Regions from separate parts of the Homo sapiens genome. Here region 2 is linked to region 1. A link means that fine-mapping ties the variant in region 1 to the expression of a gene that starts in the linked region. Tissue or cell type: neutrophils. Region 1 holds a variant in brackets; the other region holds the start of a gene. All regions are shown on one strand. Distances are between the middles of the regions.

Region 1 (2,761 bases):
GCACCTTTTCTACCCACTGGATGCCACAAGCACACCCCCTCCTACCCCAAGTGGTGATATCTGAAAGTGAGTCCAGATATTTTTGCCAAAAGTCCCCTAAGGTAGCACAATCTCTTGGTTGAGAATCAGTGTTTAGGCCTACCATACAAATCAAGGAAGTCATATTTTGATACCAGAGATGTCCAGTTTGAGCCAGCTGAGCTCTTTGCTGTATACTTAATTAATTAATTAATACTTAAATGTAGATGCATTACAACTGAAGACTTAGGTAATGGACATTTTGAGCATTACTTCAGGAAGAAAATCCTTAATATTTAAAAAAGTCTCTGACTTTACATTCTTCATCTCCTTTGGCCTACCTGATGATTTTATAAATTTCTGGTCATCGGCTGGGCACGGTGGCTCATGCCTGTAATCCCAGCACTTTGGGAGGCCAAGGCGGGTGGATCACCTGAGGTCAGAAGTTCGTGGTGGCCAACGTGGTGAAACCCTGTCTCTACTAAAAATACAAAAATTAGCCAGTGCTACTTGGGAGGCTGAGGCAAGAATTGCTGGAACCCAGGAAGTGGAGGTTGCAGTGAGCCAAGATCGTGCCATTGCATTCCAGCCCGGGCGATAGAGCAAGACTCCATCTCAAAAAAAAAAAAAAAAAAAAAATTCTGGTCACATTTAGCTTCATTCCAAAAGCTACAACCTCTTGTGGTTCAACATTTTCTTTTTGAGAGGAATATTGGGCACTCATGTCTCTTTTAATGACTTGAATACAATTTTCTATCAACATGGACTTAAAAAAACTTTTCTTATTCATGTGAAGATAAAAATCATTAATGTATTTGAGTTTTCCTTTTAGTTGTTTTAAGTAATTTAGATGATCACATCCATTCTTCACAAGCTTCAATAATTTTTATGAGCTACACTTCTCTGAAAATCTGTGGTCCGAATGCATGTTTTACGTGACCTGGGTAGAAGTGGAAGCAAACCAATAATTGATCAATTTTCAGTGATTAAGCATTTTTAATTTCTTGATTATAACACCTAGAGATTGCAACAGAACTGGTGGAAAATGGAGTTTTGAAAAACTTGTCTCAGAGGTAGCCACTTTATCTTCCAGCATTAAAAAAAAAAAAAAAGCAAGCCAGTGATGCAACTTTGACAGCCA[A/C]TATATTTCTGGATCACCTTCATTATAGACCAACAATGTATTGCATCCATGCTGAGAAAGTTTTCAATAAGAAGCAACTGCCACTCTGCCAGAGGTTATGATATTTGGAAGTTCAGCAGTGTTGAAGAAGTGCAATGAGCTTAAATAAAAGCTAGATGCACATCAAAACACTAACATGTGAGCACCATTCTTGTTGCTTTCTGTCACTTGTATAAAAGGACAAATCTCTATTTTTCTGTTGGTGTTTGTAATTTCTAGAGATTTTTTGAACTTCCTCTGAACTAACTGGATCCCATTTACAGGATCTATTTGGCAGTTCATAACCATAAAGCAACTGTTGCAATCTCTCCAAGTTGGAAAAATATTTCCATTAAAAAAAACCCTTCAATCTCCAGTTGCAATTTGTAAAGCAATGGACAAATACTTAGTTCTAATAATTTTAAATCAACAGTTGCCTTTATAAGTGGATTTCTTTCACCCTTTTCTGTTTAAAACATATTTTTTCTTAATTTTAATCTTGTTTAAATTCTATTCAATATCTTATTTTAAATTATTGGTTTGGCATCTTTGAAAATATTTTGTTTTTCTTCAATGTAAAGTGTCACAGGATAATCTGCTTTCTATGTGTGTTTGAAAAGTTAGTAGTTGATTTTAGAAAAGGAACAGAATTTTTAAAATACAATATGAGTCTTTCCTGTTCAGATTTCCAGGCAGCTTCCAAGAAATGTTTATAGCTTCAATATTTTCACAGATAATGCCTGTGTTTTCAATGCCATCTACTCTCCTCCTACCTCTCCATATTCCTGCTCCTGACCATTTTACAAGACTAAAGCATAAAGTTAATATAAATTTATATGGCTGAAAATACCAAAATATTCCCTATAATAAAAATGTGTATAGCAACTGACCCATGTTCTATTAGAAAGTTAAATTCAATTTTTTAAATGTGTTTTAGTTTCTTTTGCTTTTATTTAAACGTGACATTATTTCTAATTTCAAACCTGTGGTAAATGCTACCTTGAGGTAGCTTTTAAAAGTGCACATTAATTAAAATTATATAGACAGGTATGTTGCCAAAGACATTCAACACTGGATCTGAGAGAAAAGGTTTCCAAATGCTGTACAAATTGCAAATGTAGTGTGCTGTAGAACGTGGGCAGCTGCAGGAGGAGGGCTGCCAGTGCACAGCAGATTCTGATGGCAGTGTGACGGACTTTAGCAGGAAGCTAAATCCAGTCTTGAAGGGCAGACAGATATTAGAGGACAAAATGTGGTATACAATCCAATTGTAGTATGCCCAGAGAATAAGAATGAGGATCATTCTCATTAGAGGGTCAGTAGGTAAGTTGACAGAAACAAGCCTGAAAGACCAAGTATCAGAGACAAATTAACAATCCAAGCATGATGCTCTGGAAAGATCACCTAAGTTTAATTCAATAGGCCTGGCTGCAAATTGGGCACCTCCATTTATAAGCTATAAGACCTTTGGTCAGACTTCAGATTCCTCACCAGCATAATAGTCTCTCATAGAAGTGCTGTGGAATGATACAAAATAACATGTAAACAATTCACACAATCATCTGGTCACACAATAGTTTCTGA
Region 2 (2,500 bases), 230 kb before region 1:
CTCTCGCCTCGGCCTTCCAAAAGTGTATTGTATCTTGATGCTTTCAGTAGAATGGTTCACCTTATAACCTCTACATGGCAGGATGCATAATCACCAGTTTATTCTGTAATACCTGAGCAAAAATTCAGCCTAGCTAATATGGCCTCTTTCACCACACTGACAAGATAAGGATGACGTCCACTTAGTTGGCCACCACCAGTATCATAATATTAGATAGTAGTTTAAAAATATATAATGGAAACTAGCTGGTGACCACCACTTTACTTCCAGTTTTGAAATTGCTGACTCATCCTATTTAAGAATCTGTTGTAAGCATCATTTAAGAATTAGTTTGGTTTAGACATACTTTGAAGTCAACATAGTTTTTAATGCATGGAATTACATAAAGTCAAATGAACTATATACCCTTGCTACATGCGGTCTTAATAACACTTGAAAAAATTGGCTGGATTTTCATTTAAAAGCCACCTTGAATAATGATTTTATTTCAGTGAAATTCGCTCGTATTTTTTCCAAGTTCCTTCGACATTCTAGATACACTATCGCTTCTCTAAGAGATAACTGGCTGGCGCAGAGTTGGAACCAATACAGACCCAGGCCTGACTGCCAAGCACTGACCATTCCTGCAAATTTCTCTCCCAGAAGACGTGTGCAAGCAAAGAAGAGGGCGATAATTTGATTTTGCAAAGGTAGGGATAGACGCGCACGCACAGACATCTGCACCGGCCCACAATGAGTTTGGGACGGGAGCAGTTAGGAAGTGGGGAGCTGCGGTACCTTTTCTTGGCCTTCCTGAGCTTGACTGGGTGCAGAACTCAGCCCTCAGGGCTGCGGGACAGCGTCTTCTCAGAAACCCGCAGCTTGGCTGGGGCCGCCAGACGCGCGTCCCTCACCCTCCCAGCGGAGCGCGGGGTGCCCGGCCCGCCTTGCGCTAGCCAGCAGCCTGGAACGCCGTAAGAGCGCAGCGCAGTAGGGAGTCGCACGCCAGGGGCAAAGGGACCTGCGATCTGCGCTCCTCCGGAAGCGGGAGGATGGCTAGGAGAGCCTCAGAAGTGTCATTAAAGGAAAAACCAAAAATTGAAGTTGCGGCTAAGTTTTCCCCATGAGAAGGCGGGGCAGCTCGGCCAGTAGGATAGACCGGAGGGTAACGCTGGAGCTGGGAGGGGCCCTGGGCGTAGGCTTTCGGGGAAAATTCCATCGCCCTTTCAACCACCACCACTCCCCTCCCAAGGCAAAGAAGCCGAGCTCTGTACCTCCATCGAGTCCTGGCTGCAGGGTGGGGGGCGACAGCCACCGCAGCCGGGAGGGTGCGGCCACCCAGTTCCCTCCCGGGGGGCGCCGGACTTCGAAGGCAGTGAGCGAGTCAGCTGGGATTCCCCCGGGCGCCTGCCACCCGGAGTCCCAACCCCTGGCGAAAAGAAAAGTGAAAGAGAAAGAGCCGGGAGCATAGGCGAAGACAAACACCTCCCGCGGAGACTGGGGGTGGGGCGGGTGGCGGCGGCTCCTGGATGACTGACTGCCCCAGGTGTCACTGCTTCCCGGCCTGTTTCCGTCCCTGCCGGGGCCTGGGGCGCAGAACTTGCAGGGCAAGCGCAAGGACATCGAGGAGCCCCAGCCCCGCCCTGCAGGAACACCAGCCACCGGTCTCCTCCTCTACCTGCCGGGACACCTGCAGAGAAGGCACAAGGATAGCCGCATCCCAAGCGACGGGCACCATGTGGGAAGCTTCCGCAGCTGAACCTGGAGACCCGGGCTGGGCTGGCGCGCATCCAAGTCTTCCTGAGGAAAGGGAAAAGGATGTCGGATCTGGATGCTGGGCGGCTACTCTAGACCGGCCTCTTGGTCCCCGCACAGGCTGCAAGAAGGAAACTTTGAAGTCCAACTAGGGGAAATGTTGGAAGAAGACACCCGGGTGGCAGCTTTGTGCAAGACAGTTGGTACAGGGAGTGAACTTAGAGCAATGAGCCTCTCTGCGGATCACTTTTCCAGCCTATTGTGTAGTCCAGTGTAAAATATCACACATGGTCCCATTTGATGGAAGCGTGAGATGTTGTTCTTGTAGTATTTTTACATTGGAGGAAGGAACTGAGTTGAGGCTGAGTGATTTGCATGCCATAAAGGCAGTAGCAAAGATCTCACGCTTAGTTTTGAAAGTACTTTGCAGAATCTTGCACTCTTGTGAATCACTGAAAATCCCTCTTGTACGGTGCTTTCCAAATTTTCAGAGTCATGGTTCAGAGAAAATGATGTCTTCCTGGAGCGCAGTTTAATTTAGTTTAAAATTTAATTATGTTTTTAATTACATAAATATGATAAATATCAAATAGAAAAATAATAGAAATTATTCACTTTCCATGTACATAAAGTTCCGTATAATATAATTTCATATTTTTATGAAAAATTTGAGTTTATTTTCATTAACTCAATTTTTTGATATCAGTTTTATATTTGAAATAATTACTGATGGACTTTTTGATGAGAATTACATCAAACTCTAGAT

What was found. PIP is the estimated chance that this variant, and not a neighbour inherited with it, causes the effect.
Region 2: it holds the start of IL15, and the variant in region 1 is fine-mapped to the expression of IL15 in neutrophils (BLUEPRINT, PIP 0.95).

The regions. Positions count from the first base shown.
Region 1 is chr4:141,403,595-141,406,355 of GRCh38, reverse strand. No RefSeq gene overlaps it. Among named protein-coding and RNA genes, the nearest start is that of LINC02432, 72 kb to the right of the region's middle. The variant A/C (reference allele first, on the strand shown) is at 1,160.
Region 2 is chr4:141,635,502-141,638,001 of GRCh38, reverse strand. It overlaps IL15 (interleukin 15), which reads right to left and starts at 1,419. Exons shown (of 8, transcript NM_000585.5): 1 at 1,254-1,419. RefSeq lists an enhancer at 1,417-1,506.